2 separate regions of the Homo sapiens genome follow, and region 1 is linked to region 2. Evidence: fine-mapped expression QTL. A gene starts in region 2. The other region holds a variant in brackets. All regions are shown on one strand. Distances are from middle to middle.

Region 1 (8,387 bases), 21 kb after region 2:
TCCCACCCTCCCACCCCAAATGCCTCACAGCCCTCTTCCCGGACTTCGTCCCTGAACCCCAGTCCTCAGGTCCAACACGTGCCCCGCGGGGCTGCCCAAACCCCCACCCCACCCACCTCCAAATCTCCCTCCCAGTCTGGTTTCAAATCCCTCTCTCGAAACCCTTCCCTAACCCCCGCTGTGCCCCCCAAGTCCTCCTTCTACAGCCCTGCCACCTCATCTTCCTATATCGGGCCAATTCAGAACATCCCGTCCTATATCACCCCCTATGTGCCCCGCTTTCTGAAGGAGCCCCCCTTTTTCCAGCCCCCCACAGCACCACTTCCCCAAAACCCATGCTTTGCCTGTCCCTCTCCCTGCCCTGCCCGGAAGCCCCCACCCCCTCCTGACTCACTCTACTTACCTCTCCTTCCCCCGCCCCCCCACCACCCCCAGTTTAACTGCCCCTTCCCAACTCCCCCCGGTCTGTTCATGCCCCCCTCCTCTCTCTCCTACACCCCGCCCGTGGAGGTCCTGGTGAGCGGGAAGCCGCACGTGGTCCCCAACGTACTGCCTGCCACCTTCTACACCCCCTTCTCCCGCTACTACTCCCAGCCCCGCTCCTACCGCTCAGGGTACCGCGGCTACTCCGGCGCCCTGACCCTCCCCTCCATCTCCCCCTTGCAATACGACGGCTCTGGGCGCTCTGTCCACTTCTATCATGGGTCCTAGGCCGCACGCCTATTTTGGACCAGAAGCCTCTGCCAGTAAATTCAAGCTGCTACATCCGGACTTCATCAGCTACCTGACAGAAAGGTACGGAGTGGGGTGCCTGAAGAACAGCGTCCCCTTCCTTCCCCCTTTTACACACCCACCCACATCCAGTCAGCGCCCTCGCACGAGCCCCACGCACTGACCGATAACCAGAGCTCCACTGTCCCGAGTGCTGTGTGCAAAGCACTGTCACTTCATTTACTGTTTTATTTAGCACCTTGATAGAGGGAGGGTGATATATGTCAGTCACCAGGAAATGGACAGGAAACTCAGGATAACTCAAGGAGGTTTATACAAAGGCACAGACTGGGAGCTGGGACCATAAGGTGCACAGCAGCAGTGGCGCCGTCAGCAGCAGGGCATCAGAACCTTCAGGCCCAAACACAGCCAACACAAGGTGCCGGAAGGAACCCGGGGACCAGCCTCAACCCCCTTCCCTCCCTCCTGCCAGGGGTTCTCAATGTGGATGTGCATATGGTCCTCGTCTGGGGTTGTCACAAGGGTGGTGGCGGCAAGTGCCATCAGTGGGTAGAGGCCAGGGATGCTGCTGAACATCACAAGAAGCACCTGGCCCCAAGTGTCAACAGCACTGAGACTGAGAAACCCTGCTGTGGACCAGAGGCTCGAATCCCAGGGCAGGGAGCAGTTGGAGAGGGGTGTGTGGATGTGGGGAGGCAAATGAAGCCCCTCTAATTAGTCCCGTGCTACAGAGGAAGACAGGCTCTGAGAGGTCAGGTGATCGGCCTGGCACAGCTCGATGTGAACTCAGGCCTGAGGGCAGAGCCCGTGGTCACACCCTGGCCTCACTCTTGGACTGTGTGGGTCCGGTCACAGGGTCTGAGCTCCCTGTCCCTCACACGTGATTCCTACTTAATCAAGATGTGGAGTAGAGAGAAACTGCAGTCTCAGGCTAAATAAACAGGCCACCTATGCCCTTGGCAGTGTGGTTACTTAGTAGCTTGGGGTGAAAACAAGCTGTTGCCAAAAGGGGGAACCTGTGGTTCCTTTCTCACCACCCCCTCCCCCAACCTTACCTAAGGTCTCAAAGATCTTTGTATTTAGTCCACTTGGACCGAATAAAGAACTGACTGGAGTAGAAGGCCCTCAGTTTTTGAAGTTTTCCCACCTATTTGAATGTGTAGTTGTGAAGTGTGATGATAGCCATCAAGCTAGTGAGCTGAAATGTCTCTTTTTGCTTCCAGGTTCTTGAAATCAAAGTTGATTAACACACATTTTGGAGACCTATATATGCCTAGTACCGGGGCTCTCATGCTGCTGACAGCTTTGCATACCTGTGACCAGGTAAGAGGCCTTCTCTTCCAGAAGCCCATGCCGGCAGAACACAGGATAACAGAACCCAACAGGATCCCCTGATATCCCTTACCTCGGAGCTGGGACTCTTGGCCTCTGTTCGTGGAATCCCCAGTTCCAAGAGTGCTGCTGGTACTGCTCACTTCCTTGCCCACAACCCTGGGGCCTTTGAAGGACAGGTCCTGGGCCAGCCTTGCCTTGGCTCCGGACACCTGCCTCAGGCTTGCCTTGGCTCCTGACACCTGCCCCAGGCTTCCTTCTTTCACTCTTCTCCAAGGCAGCCACTCAGTATGGTATTTAAGGCTCAAATCATCAAACTGCCCTTGTGAAAGCCAAAGTCCTCAACATACTGGGCCAAATAGGGACATTCTTTTATGGGGACATCCTAGAGCTGGGGTAGGGCAGCAGGTTTAGCCTCCCACATGCAACTACTTTGAAATCACCGTTAAGAGTCATTCCTGATGGGATATGACCCACGTGAAGCTCATGGAGGCAGGGGCCAAGCAGCAGCTTTCAAGGAGAGGCCGTGACCCATGCTAAAGCTGGTATGGAGAGCTGGGGGCCAAATGCCTCTCCACGACTCACACCTAAATCTTTTCCCTCTTTTTTGAGACAGGGTCTCAACTCTGTCACCCAGGCTTAAGTGCAGTGGTGTGATGATCCTCCTGCCTCAGCTTCCCAAGTAGCTGGGTAGCTGGGATCACAGGCATGTACTGCCACGCCCAGCTCTTTTTTTTTTTTTTTACTTTTTGTAGAGACAGGGTCTTACCATGTTGCCCAGGCTGGTCTCAAACTTCCAAGCTCAAGTGATCCTCCCACCTCAGCTTCCCAGTGTTGGGATTACAGGCGTGAGCCACCACACAGGGCCTTTTCCTATTCTGATGCAGGAGTGTCTTGACTGCAGTCCCCAGTTAGGATGGAGAGAGTAGTAATGGGCTTTTGCCTCCACCCTTGAGTTCCAAATCCAGCTCTGGCAATCACCAGCTATGCCAAGTGGGGACACAGTGAGTCACCCCTGAATCCATCTCCCCACTTGCTAAGTGGGAATAAGCCCTAGACCATTATCCTCACCTCAGCAGACGGACACCTTTCTAAACTCATGTCACTTCACCCAAGTGTCTGTACACACTAGACGCTCAACAAATACTAATCCAGCGACTATCCTTGCCCAGGTCAGTGCCTATGGATTCATCACAAGCAACTACTGGAAATTTTCCGACCACTATTTCGAACGAAAAATGAAGCCATTGATATTTTATGCAAACCACGATCTGTCCCTGGAAGCTGCCCTGTGGAGGGACCTGCACAAGGCCGGCATCCTTCAGCTGTACCAGCGCTGACCCCAATGCACTGAGCCCTTTGCTTCTTCAAGAGTTGCGGCCCTGATCCTCTCAAGTGGCCAAAAGCTTTTTTAACTTTTCAATCTTCACCTTCCCTTGCCAACAGAGGGCACTGGGGTGAATTCAAGATTTTCATCGAGGTCTGTTCAATATAGGACACCCCAGCTTGTCCTTGGCTCATCCAAGAACTCTTCTGTATCTAAAACAATACATCTCAATCTTGGCCAAGGGAAAATGGACTGCTTTGCTGGATTGGCACTGAGCAACTTTAGGAAATGTCGGTGGAGTGTTCAGCAAGATCAGACAGCAGTCCAGGTCAAAGGCAAACACACACGCTCCAGCCCAAATCCTCCTGGTGGCACATCCTACCCCAGATGCTAAAGTGATTCAAGGACTCCAGGACACCTCTTAAGAGCCTTTCTAAGAACATGATAGGCTTACTTCTGCTCCATAATAAAGTGGGAGAAAAAAGCCAGAATATAACTTAAGACTAGATAACTGCGTACATGATGGACCATTTTTTTTTTTTTGGCTGGGTAGAGAAATCATATAAAACGCAGGCTGTTTAGCATGGAGATGACTCTCAGAACACTGGGAGGGTCTGGCACTTGATGGGGGTTAGTTGCTTGGCAGCCTGCCTGCCACTGAGGGAAGTCCCATTAGAGATGTATCACCACCTTGTCACCAACAGGATGATGTCACCAGGTAATAAACCTTCATCCTCATATCATGGCGTCAGTAAATTTGAACTCAGCTGACGGTAGTTTCCCAAGTTTATTGTAAGTGGTTTTAAGTTAAGTCTCATCCAAACAAGTTATCACACAGCACTTAACCAAGCCCTGGGATTTACTGTCTTGATGACTACACGGCTTTGCACAGTCTGAGATGCTTCAGTGTGCAAGGCAGCAGCTGGGGGGGAGGAGGGGGGTCTTCACAGGGACAGCTGGCAAGAGACTTCCTGAGGCACATCAG[T/C]TACGTTGGTCAATTTAGGGCACGGTCTGGTTCTGCAGCTTTGAAAGGTGGATTCTTTCTATTAGCACACTTTACAAGAGGGATTGTAAAGGATTAACTCAGTCACCAGAAACGAAACACCACTTCAGAAATTCAGAGACCTCTGATCAACAGAACAGACATTTGGGCTTTAACTGCTAAAGCAGCTACCTACTTGGGGAAACCATGGCATTCTGCTGCCTGGACAGCAGGAATTAAGAGAGATTTCAGAGTTACTGGCACGAGGACAAAGCCTCTCAGCTCGCTTCACCTTGGCAACCTTAAACAGTCCCTCCTTGGTCTCTATGATAGCAGTATGTTCCTTTGGATGGAATACTTGGTTTGGAAATAATGTAGTCAAATGTAGGATATGTAAGTACTCCTCAACAGTCACAATCCATCCTAGTATCTTAAATAGTGATTTTTTTTTTTTAATTTACAAAAGAGGTTTATTGGACTTACAGTTCTACATGGCTGGGAAGGCCTCACAATCATGGCGGAAGGTGAAAGCCACATCTCACATGGCAGCAGATAAGAGAAAAAAAGGTAGTGATCTTTTAGTAAAGAAACCTGAGACTGGTAGTGGGCTTGGAGCCAGAGGATCGCTTAAGTCCGGGAGTTCGAGACCAGCCAGGGTAACAAATTGAGACCCCCCCCCAACTTTAAAATTAAAAAACGAAAGAAAAAATAGCTGGGTGTGGTGGCTCACACCTGTAATCCTAGCACTTTGGGAGGCCAAGGCGGGTGGATTGCCTGAGCTCAGGAGTTTGAGACCAACCTGGGCAACATGGTTGAAACCCTGTCTCTACTAAAACAAAAAAAATCAGCCAGGTGTGGTAGCGTGCACCTGTAGTCCCAGTTACTTGGGAGGCTGAGGCACAAGAATTGCTTGAACCTGGGAGGTAGAGGTTGCAGAGATCATGCCACTGCACTCCCAGCCTGGGTGACAGAGCAAGACTGTCTCAAAAACAACAACAACAACAACAACAAAACAAAACAAAAAAAACCTCTCAAAAAAATGAAAAAAAATTTAAATTTAAATTAAAAAAAAAAATGCTGGGTCTGATGGCTCACACCTGTCATCTCAGCACTTTGGGAAGCTGAGGCAGGCAGATCACAAGGTCAGGAGATAGAGACCATCCTGGCCAACATGGTGAAACCCAGTCTCTACTAAAGAAGGTACGCGCCTGTAGTCCCAGCACTCAGGAGGCTGAGCCAGGAGAATTGCTTGAACCCGGGAGGTGGAGGTTGCAGTGAGCCAAGATTGTACCACTTCACTCCAGCCTGGCGACAGAGTGGAACTCCGTCTCAAAAAATAAAATAAAATAAAATAAAATAAAATAAAATAAAATAAAATAAAGCAAAAATATAAAATGTTAAAAAAAAAACAAAAAAAGGGAAAAAGGAAGCTGATTGCCTTGGTGAGTCAACACTGGGTATTTTCTGACCACTATTTGAAACAAAAAAGGAAACCACTGATATTCTATGCAAAGATCTGTTCCTGGAAGGCACTCTGCGGAGACACCAGGAGAACTTTTATCAATCCTTCATTGATTTGAAGTAAAAGTGCTAAAGCAATGGTTGTGGGTGGCAACCCATTAGCAGATCACAAAATCACTGTAGTGGGTAACTAAACAAGAGGAAACACAAGACGGCATCCTGTGTAACTGGGGTTAAGCATTACTCTCTGAAACTCATGGCATCAGTTTCCTCTTAGGCTCTTCCAACAGAGTATAATCATGTTCATTTCAGTTTACAATCCTTGCAGTCCCATCGATTTGTGAGATTATACCCAGGTCATCCACAGTGGAGGTCTGAAAATGTTCTTAGTTGTACTCTAATTTCACTAACTGCCAAAAGGTTTTCCAGAATAATCTCAGTTGCTTCATTCCTTTAAAGATGAAGCCCAAAGAACGCATGGCGATTACTTTAGAGGAACAATTAGCAGCAGAGGCAGGGCTGTGCTGATCCCATCTGGCATCGCTGGGAGCTAACCTATAAAACAGAAGAATAATTTGAAGTAACAGCCAAGGAAGTGACTCAAAACTGAATGCTATATAACAACTAATTTGGGAGAACAGGCAGTCAGTCCAAGAGCACTCACTCTCACCACCGGCAGGCATGTGCGCGTTGGGGGAGCGTAACGGGGCACTATCACACCATTTTGGTGCAGGCTGGTGGAGATCCAGGATGACTCATTTTAAGGAGACAGTATCTCTGAGGGAGCAGTTTCTGGTAAGAGGCCAGTAAACAACTATCAGAAAGCACTCCCTCTGGATAGAAACATTTCAAGTCAAATCTTATGGTTTACTTGAGTTCTGTAGTCAAGTCCACTCAGCAGACAATAACCACTTGATAAGCTACCCTTTTCACTGTTTTACTTGCAGGCTGTAAACTACTGGGGCCAGTTTTTAGGCTCATTAAATCTCACCCAGAATACAGCTTCTTTGGTGTCCAGCAAAAACACAACCTTAAATACAAAGAGTTTGCACACACCTCCCCTTTCTTTTTTTTTTTTTTTTTTTTGAGACGGAGTCTCGCTCTGTCACCCAGGCAGGACTGCGGACTGCAGTGGCGCAATCTCGGCTCACTGCAAGCTCCGCTTCCCGGGTTCACGCCATTCTCCTGCCTCAGCCTCCCGAGTAGCTGGGACTACAGGCGCCCGCCACCGCGCCCGGCTAATTTTTTTGTATTTTTAGTAGAGACGGGGTTTCACCTTGTTAGCCAGGATGGTCTCGATCTCCTGACCTCATGATCCACCCGCCTCGGCCTCCCAAAGTGCTGGGATTACAGGCGTGAGCCACCGCGCCCGGCCCACACCTCCCCTTTCAACAGAAAAGAAAGGCAATCTGTGTGCACTTCAAGCCTGGCATTCCAGTGGGAACAAAGCTGGGCACCCCACTCTCCAGCACCACTTGGTTTCTTTCTTGCTCACATGCCAGTCGTGACATTCAGACAGGATCTAAGCTACAAACTTAGGAGACCTCCCTGGCGTCCTTAACAAAGCACATAGAAACCAAACAGCCGTGGTTTCCCCTAAATGTCAGGACCCTGGAGCAGAGGCAAGGTCAGAGTCATTAAGCATTCTCATTGCCACAAGCTGGCATACATCCTACATTCCAATCTGTTTCTAAGAGCGCATTCATTTTCTTGAAATATGTAACAAGCACTTTCATTCCACAATAAGGGCATAAATCAAATCCTGGGTACTTGTGCATTCCTGCCACCTCATACAGCCTGTATCCTCAGAGCCATAATCAAAGGACTAGAGAAAGCAGGACAATCACTCATTTGCTTTTCACGTTTTAGAGGAATGATGCTCTAGACTGGGCTCTCAGCAGGATATGCTGAGGGAAAAAAAAAGGGGAAAAAAAACAAAAACAAAAAAAAAACCATGGAGCCAAACCCTTAAGCCTCAGAATAGATTATTTCCCTCAGTCCAGATTTTCAGACAGGGATAACTAACCATCATAGGCTTGTGGGACTTCTTACGGATACGAAAGATGTAAACAAATCTTACAAACAGGAAAGCAATCATTTCACTTGTTTCCGGCAAAGCAGTTCAGTTTCGTCTCTTATTGCAGACACCTAGCAACAAAATGCTACTAAAGTCTCCCTGCCCCCATTGCTTTAAGTCCAGAGCAGGGGAAGCAAAAAAGATTACCACTCCCCCAAACCAAACCAAGCCTGTTTACCAGTTCGTCTACTTACTCACATTAAAGACATGGCACTTTGGGTCCGGGTCCAGGTCCTGGTTCAGAGCAGCTGCCACACCGTGGCTACTAGAGGATCCTTTTCCGGCTTTGGAAACTGAGGCTGACTGCACCTGGGAAGAGAAATTAAGAAAAAAAACTACTTAAGAAGATACACACAGAGTAACTCTCAAGTAACTTAAAATTTCTGTAAGGCAAACTTGGGAAACTGAGTTTCAGATATTCAAATTCCACACAGAAAGGCCTTTCTTTGCCTTCAGACAGGGATAACTTGAAATCA
Region 2 (8,244 bases):
TATTATATAATTGTATTTACATACAGTCATCCCTTATTATCCATGGGGGATTGGTTCCAGGACTGCCCGTATAACCAAACCAAATCCACACATACTCAAGTCCCATAGTTAGCCCTGAAAAACCCATGAGAAGTAGGCCCTCTGTGTCTGCAAGACCCTGTCTCTGCAAAAATTAAAACAAAAATAAATTAGATGGGTATAGTGGCACATGCCTATAGACCTGGCTACTTGGGAGGCTAAGGCAGGAGGATCGCTTGAGCCCAGGAGTTTAAGACTGCAGGAGCCAGCTGGGCACGGTGGCTCACGCCTGTAATCCCAGCACTTTGGGAGGCTGAGGCGGGCAAATCATGAGGTCAGGAGATCAAGACCATCCTGGCTAACATGGTGAAATCCCATCTCTACTAAAAATACAAAAACTTAGCTGGGCATGGTAGCACACGCCTGTGGTCCTAGCTACTTGGGAGGCTGAGGCAGGAGAATCAAGGCAGCTTGAACTCAGGAGGTGGAGGTTGCAGTGAGCCAAGATCATGCCACTGCACTCCAGCTTGGACAACAGAGTGAGACTCCGTCTCAAAAAAAAAGAAAAAGACTGCAGGAGCCATGATTTCACCACTGTACTACAGTCTGAACAACAAGAGTGAGACTCTGACTCAAAAAAAAAAAAAAAAAAAAAACAGTAAGAAAGAAAAAAAAACAGTAAGAAAGAAAGAAAAAAGTAACGCAGGTCTCCAGGGATGCCTTTATACACAGCTGAACAGGTTTGCAGCTGATAGAGATCTGGGCCTCAGATGGAGACTAATTCAGGAGTCACAAACAGAAAGCTGGTTGTTGAAACCATGAGAACAAAGAGTTGCAGGCTGGAATTACTGGGAGCTAAGTGTCAAATTCAGAGAGACAGATGCAGCAGAATTAGAACTGGAAAATGTGGACTCCCTTTGGAAGGATGATGGTTGCTAGTGACTTCAGTGGGTACAATTTCAATGGCATCGTAGGTAAGGAAGTCAGATGCAAAAAGAAGCAGAGACAGAATAGACTCTCTACCAAGAACTTGGATGAAAGAAAAAGAGAGTAGCTATGAAGGGGGCCAGCTCCATGGCGTTTTTTGTTTGTTTTGCTTTGCTTTGCTTTTTAGGATGAGCTATTTGGGGCATGTTCATAGGCTGTGATAAGGACCTTGCAGAGGGGGCAGGGAGGGCTGCTGAAGCAAGAGCTGAAGAATGGGAGGTCACAGTGAAGAGGCTGGCTCTCCCTGGAAGGAGGAGAGTCTGGAGCAATAAGGTGAGGGTGCATGGGCAGGATCATGCTGTGAGCAGAGGGACCAACTGACCTTTTGTTCCAGGCTCTTTTCAAGAACGTTGGTATAGGCCAGGTGCAGTGGCTCACGCCTGTAATCCCAGCACTTTGGGAGGCCGAGGCGGGCGGATCACGAGGTCAGGAGATCGAGTTCATCCTGGGTAACATGGTGAAACCCCATCTCTACTAAAAATACAAAAAATTAGCCAGATGTGGTGGCGGGCGCCTGTAGTCCCAGCTACTTGGGAGGCTGAGGCAGGAGAATGGCGTGAACCCGGGAGGTGGAGCTTGCAGTGAGCCGAGATCGTGCCACTGCACCCCAGCCTGGCGACAGAGCGAGACTCTGTCTAAAAAAGAAAAAAAAAAAAAAAGATTGTTGGTACAGCAGACTGCCTTGGAAGATAAAGATAGTGCCTCCCTCTGGAGCAGAGGGCAGATTTCCTCACTATCCAACGTAATAAAGATAATGTCTCCCTCTTGGACAAGAGCAGGTTTGCTTGCAGCCCATTATAAAAGATTCTGGTTTCCTTATCTCAGGGATTCTCAGCTGTGCTGCAAACCCATTGTGTGTGCAACACTCACCTGGGCCTCTCTGTATCACTCTCATGGGGCTTGAGGAGTAAAGAGAAGTGACACAAACATGATGCCTATGTTGCTTGCTGCACCATGAGTAATAAAGTCCTTTGTCTCTGATCCAGTAGTCTTGTGTCTTCTACCAGCATCCACAGAACTATGGCAGTTTCATTGGTTAGCTTGTAAGGAGAGCAAAATCTGCACAGTTCTTAACAAAAGATGACTTTGAACTTGGGGGCATGGGAAGTTGAAGGTCACTCCTGATGGGCTGCATTTTCTCACAGGTATGGCTGGGAAAAGAGGAGGCTTGAGGAAAGAAGTAAGTTCTAGAATCATTGTTGAGCAGGATAGAAGCTGGAGCTGAGCAAGGATAAGGAAATGGCTGATGTTGAGAGCCAGCTGAGGCCAAACTTGTGTTCCCAATTCACACTCTGGAATGAGCTACACCTGACCCCTGACCCCTGCAGCACTCAGCCAGGCCAGGGACAGGCAGCACAGGAGAGGCAGAGGCAAGAGTGAATCCAGGTCAGAGTTTTGCTGGGAAGAAAGCCAGGAACACAAGAGAATCTGGGTTACTGATGCAGGAGTAGCTCAGATTATAACCCAGGGAGTCCTGCCTAGATAGGAAAGAAAGCTGCTGAGAGAGGGTTGGCCCACTGGGAGAAAAGGGAAGGATGGAGACCCTGGAGGTCCTGTGAGGCTGAAGATGGGAGGAAGGAGAACTCCAGGTGGGTGGATAGGAGATCTTGGTGTGAGGGGAGTACTGCCATTTAAGGCATTGGAGGTGGACCTGGATTATTAACACAGATAGGGGGTTAACTCCCACACAGGAGGAGAGCACCCTCTCCCCAGCTCTTAAGACTGGAGTCCTGAGGCCTGGCGCAGTGGCTCGCACATGTAATCCCAGCAGTTTGGGAGGCCAAGGTGGGCAGATCACCTGAGGTCAGGAGTTTGAGACCAGCCTGGCCAACGTGGTAAAGCCCCCATCCCTACTAAAAATACAAAAAAAAAAAGCTGGGCATGGGGGTGCACTCCTGTAATCCCAGCTACTGGGGAGGCTGAGGCAGGAGAATCGCTTGAACCTGGGAGGTGGAAGTTGCAGTGAGCCGAGATCACGCCTCTGCACTCCAGCCTGGGTAACAGGCTGTTTCAAAAAAAAAAAAAAAAAAAAAGACTAGAGTCCCGGCAGGGAGAGGCTGGGCTGTGTGTGGGGGCCAAGTTTGTAGGTTTGTAAGTGGAAGTTGAATAAATTACTAATGAATGATTCTCCTTTTCTCCATGAAGTAGAGGGTAAGGCACTTACTGAGAGCAAGGGCTAGGAGGGATATTTATGGGCACAGAGAGAAGGTCTGAGGAAATGTGAGAAGCCAGTGATCAGGGGATAAGTAACATCTACAGGAATTTTGACAAGTAAACCCATAAAGATTGAAATGAAAGTCGTGACACCATAAATTCCAAGTAGTGCCCATCTGCGGGGTAGCAAGATGAGTCTGGCTCTGCTGAGCAGTCTTGGGGTGAAGGAAAGAACTGGCCCAATGTGAGTGACCTCCAGTGACCCTGACTTGGTAGGAGTACTGAGACTGGATGGACTGAATGGCCATTCCTGACCACAGGCCCAGGCCCTGGGAGGTTTTCGGGAAGCCTTGCAATCAGACAGGTACCTGTTGCTGCACCCAGACTTCCTCGGATACATGAAGAACAGATTAGAGCCAAAGGCCCGTGACACGGTAGCCTAGGTCCCTCTCATCCTTGCAGCCTGCTGACAGTTGGGAGTCTGGGGCATGTCACAGCCTGCCGCATGTCACAGCTTGCCGAACAGTGGCCACTGAAGCACACCCATCTCATCCATCACTCACTGCCAGGGAGTGTTCCACTTAGAGAGCACGGGTGCTGAGCTTCCCAGCCCTTTCTGATGCTGGAGCCTGCTAGACCAGGGGTCCCCAATCCCAAGCCTGGTCCGAGACCTGTTAGGAACAGGGCATCGCAGCAGGAGGTGAGTGGAGGGGGAAGGAGCATTACCGCCTGAGCTCCGCCTCCTTCAGATCAGCCTCGGCATTAGAGTCTCAAAGGAGTGCGAACCCTTTTGTGAAATGCGCATGCCAGGGATCTAGGTTGCGGGCTCCTTATGAGAGCATCTTAACTCATGCCTGATGATCTGAGGTGGAACAGTTTCATCCCCAACCCCCCCACCCCCACCCCCCTCCGTGGAAAAATTGTCTTCCAGGAAACCAGTCCCTGGTGCCAATAAGTTTGGGAACCCGTTGTGCTGAACATTTCAGGTGGTCTCTCTGACTGGCCTCGTTCTGTGAAAGGAACTCAATGCGATTGAGGGGACTGGCCACCCTGGATGGTTACCAAATAAGCGCTGACAGCCTTAGCTCCCCCACGAAACCCATCACGGCAAGCTCCCCACCTCACCCCCTTTTCCCCCCTCTACCGCCAGCCCAGAGACTGAGCTGTCGGGTTTTGCTCCTCCACCCTGCCCGCCCCCTCCCAGCTGTCCTGGCGTCCGCAGACTGACAGATCTGAGGGTCCTTTGGAGGGAGCCGGGCACATCTCCTCCCGGCCGCCGCCCACCCGCCACAGAGTCTAGAGGCCGAGTGCCGGGCCCGCAGAGGGCAGAGCGCAGCCAGCGCAGCAGGTGGCGGCGTCTACCCGCGCCTAGCTAGCCCCGGACGGCGCGAGGAAAGCGCCCTGCCCAACCCGAGACTGGCGGCCTCCCGGGGCTGGGCTCTGGAGAGAGCGCAGTGGCAGGAGTGGCCGCTGCCGAAGTCCCCCGGGCAGGGGGCAGGGCCAAAGGAGCGCGCGCTCTGGGCGCCGGGACGACACTCCAGCCCCGGGGGACCCGCCGCCCAGCTCCCGAGGGTGCGGCAGCCTCTGGCCACTCAGCCGGGGCCGAGAGGGAGCTGCCGGGCGGGCAGGCGCCGCAGGCACCCGGCGGGCAGGGCGGGGCAGGGCAAGACGGCCGCCTCCGCAAGTGCCACCCGGCCCACCCGGTTCTCTCCCTTCTGCCTGGGACGTCAGCGGACGGGGCGCTCGCGGGCCGGGGCTGTATGGGGCTCCCGCGCGGGTCGTTCTTCTGGCTGCTGCTCCTGCTCACGGCTGCCTGCTCGGGGCTCCTCTTTGCCCTGTACTTCTCGGCGGTGCAGCGGTACCCGGGGCCAGCGGCCGGAGCCAGGTAGGGGCTGCCGAGCGCAGAGCGGGAGGGCGCAGGGGCGACCAGGGCGCGGGGAGGGTCCCCAGCCCAGGGCTCCCCGGCGGCCCGCAGCCCTCAGCCCAACCTCCGCGTGGACCCCTCTGGGGCAGCTCTCAGCGAGGACTCGGCCGCGGCCCTTTGTCGCCAGAACCCTCTCCCAGCCTTGACCTCGCGCTGCCCGGACCCCGCGGCCTTTGCCTGGGTCCAAGGAAGACCTCGCCCCTGTGCACTGGCGACCCGCCCCGGTGCCCCTTGTTGGTGAAGTCCTCCCCGGCCTGATAAGTACACTTTCTATTGTCGAAATCTGGCTGGGTCCCCGAAGCAGATAAAAACTTCCTTTTTTGTCGGGAACTCTCCCTCGGTAACGTCAGATTCTGCTTTTTGGGCAGGGGCCCAAGTCTCCGGTTTCCAACTTCGCGGGGACCCTCCGTCGGGCCGCGGCCAGTCGCCTTTCCCGCCCGCTGCGGTCTCTGTCCGCCCCGCGCCCGCTCCCTTCTCCCCGGCTTCCGCTCGCCGTGTCTGGATAAGCCCAGTGCGGGCGCGATCCGCGAAGAGGCGGGCGCCCGAGGGAAAGAGGGGTGACTCCTGGCTCCATCCGCGTTCTCCTCCCCGCGCCGCGTCCTGCGCTCCACTCCCTCCTCCTCCCTAGGCACTTTCCTGGGTGTCCCACGAGGAGAACCTGGGAGCCGGCCTCTAGCAGGTGGTGGTTCCGGTGACTGAAGAAGCCGCAAAACGATTTCGCTTAGCTTAAGAAAGGCGGACCAAGCCGTGCGAAGTCTGGGTTTGGGAGGAGGGAAGGGCCCGGCAGCCTCAGGGAGAGGCCTCCAGCCCCAGCCTTTCCCTTCCTGGAGCTTTTCCATCTGCGCACCCCCTACCAACCTTGCTGGGGGGCTAACGGGATGAAAACAAAATAAGTATCTGGTCTCCACAGATGCTGTCAAAGGATACACCAAAAGTTGCAGAACAATGTGAAACAGCTTGCCAGTGATCAGGAGTCCAGCACTCTTAGAACAAAGGGTGCTTGCCCCGCCACGGTGACTTAACGCCTGTAGTCCCAGCACTCTGGGAGGCGGAGGTGGGAGGATAGCTTGAGGCCAGGAATTCGAGGCTGTGAGCTGTGATTGCACTACTGCATTCCAGCCTGGTTGACAGAGAGAGACCCTGTCTCAAAAGAAAAGGAATCCTTGTCACTTTTATGTAAAGATGTTTAAAACACAAAGTATCTCAATGCAAAGAAATAATACATGTTTGATATAAGCCTGGGCAACATGGCGAAACCTCGTCTCTACCAAAAATACAAAACTTATCCGGGGATGGTGGTGCATGCCTGTGCTTCCATCTATCTATTCCGGGAGCTGACCAAGAAGATCCCTTGAGTCTGGGAGGTCGAGGCTGCAGTGAGCTGTGATCGCGCCACTGCACTCCAGCCTGGGCAATACAGCAAGGTCCTGTCTCCAGAAAAAAAAAAAAAAGTTCGAGGTGATGGATATGCTAATTAGCTGGTTTGATTATTACACATTACATACACGTATTGAAATATCACACTGTGGCCGGGCGCGGTGGCTCACGCCTGTAGTCTCAGCATTTTGGGAGGCCGAGGCAGGCGGATCACGAGGTCAGGAGATCCTCCTGACCTGGCTTTCACCTGGCTAACACGGTGAAACCCCGTCTCTACTAAAAAATACAAAAAATTAGCTGGGCGTGGTGGCGGGCACCTGTAGTCCCAGCTACTCGGGAGGCTGAGGCAGGAGAATGGCGTGAACCTGGGAGGTGGAGCTTGCAGTGAGCCAAGATCGCGCCACTGCACTCCAGCCTGGTGACAGAGCGAGACTCCATCTCAAAAAAAAAAAAAAGAAATATCACACTGTACCCTATACATATGTGCAAGTATGTGCCAATTAAAAATAATTTTACAAAAAGGAAGAGACCTGATCTAGCAACTCAGCCCCACTCTGCATGTGACGTCCTGCCCCACCAACACCAAGGCCCTCTGGCTGCCCTGGACCACTGCCTATGGGGTAGCCCTGCTCCACAAGGAGCAGAAAAGAAAAAAAAAAAAAAAAGGCCTTCACCAAATGTGGTTCCTCGACCTTGGACTTCCCAGCCTCCATAACTGTAAGAAATGAATTCCTTTTCTTATAAAAATAATCTTTTGGGGACAGTCTCACTCTGTCACCCAGGCTTGCAGTACAGTGGGTCTATCTTGGCTCACTGTAACCTCCACCTCCTGAGCTAAAATGATTCTCCCACCTCAGCCTCCCAAGTAATACATTATCTTCTTTTTTTTTTTGGGACAGAGTCTCCCTCTGTCGCCCAGGCTGGAGTGCAGTGGCCCCATCTCGGCTCACTGCAAGCTCTGTCTCCCGGGTTCATGCCATTCTCCTACCTCAGCCTCCCGAGTAGCTGGGTCTACAGGTGCCCGCCACCATGCCCAGCTGATTTTTTGTATGTTTTAGTACAGACAGGTTTTCACCGTGTTAGCCAGGATGGTCTCGATCTCCTGACCTCGTGATCCGTCCACCTGGGCCTCCCAAAGTGCTGGGATTATAGGCGTGAGCCACCGCGCCCAGCCCCGAGTAATACATTTTTTAAAAAACACAAATTAAAATTGTTTCAGGGTATCTAATAGACTTTAAGTATGAAGTTTACTATACTTCTATTATAATGCAACAATGCTTTTTTAAAAAAAAGATCTTTCCTCTTTTCAAAATGTAGTATGACTCAAGCACCTGGCCCTTTCCTGCTGTTTCTCTGTATTTGCACTGTAGCTTAAACCCCAATGCGGGGCAGGTCAGGACTCAGCCTTGCTGTGGGAGGTGGATATTTAGTCTGGGAGAGAGTGGGAGGTGGACGGCATTCTGGGCAGAGCCGGCAGGCCACATGAGCTTCCCCAGCTTGGGACTGCAAATGGACATGCCTGGCTACAGGGGACAGTCCAGGAAGATGGGCATCTGGGACAGGGTCTACAGAGCCCAAGGAGAGGGCTCTTTAGTGCAGATTAGAGTGGAGCCCAGTCTGGGCATTTCCTCATGGCAGAATCTGGATCAGTGGGTCCCCACATGGGCATTTCTATTAAAAGTTGTTGTTGTTGTTTAATAGGAGAGTGAGAATCAACATAGGGCTGCCAGTTACTATCCATTGTCAACGTTATGTTTTTAAAAAGAGAACATTTTAGGGCTAAG

Evidence for each region.
Region 1: its variant is fine-mapped to the expression of ST6GALNAC2 in whole blood (TOPMed, PIP above 0.99). The same link has a PIP of 0.9 or more in sun-exposed skin and unexposed skin.

Annotation. Positions count from the first base shown.
Region 1 is chr17:76,561,121-76,569,507 of GRCh38, reverse strand. ST6GALNAC2 (ST6 N-acetylgalactosaminide alpha-2,6-sialyltransferase 2) reads left to right here. Exons shown (of 9, transcript NM_006456.3): 7 at 712-795; 8 at 1,956-2,055; 9 at 3,237-4,131. The coding sequence ends at 3,404. It overlaps LOC122455342 (testis-specific serine/proline-rich protein), which reads left to right. Exons shown (of 1, transcript NM_001395979.2): 1 at 1-711. The coding sequence ends at 711. SNHG16 (small nucleolar RNA host gene 16) reads right to left here. Exons shown (of 3, transcript NR_038111.1): 2 at 8,110-8,220; 3 at 4,160-6,389. SNORD1A (small nucleolar RNA, C/D box 1A) reads right to left here and starts at 7,875; the gene lies at 7,802-7,875. It also overlaps SNORD1B. RefSeq lists enhancers at 1,749-2,249, 2,250-2,750. The variant T/C (reference allele first, on the strand shown) is at 4,377.
Region 2 is chr17:76,582,484-76,590,727 of GRCh38, reverse strand. It overlaps ST6GALNAC2 (ST6 N-acetylgalactosaminide alpha-2,6-sialyltransferase 2), which reads left to right and starts at 4,868. Exons shown (of 9, transcript NM_006456.3): 1 at 4,868-5,044. The coding sequence starts at 4,920. RefSeq lists enhancers at 3,201-3,881, 3,882-4,563 and silencers at 4,432-4,721, 4,772-5,111.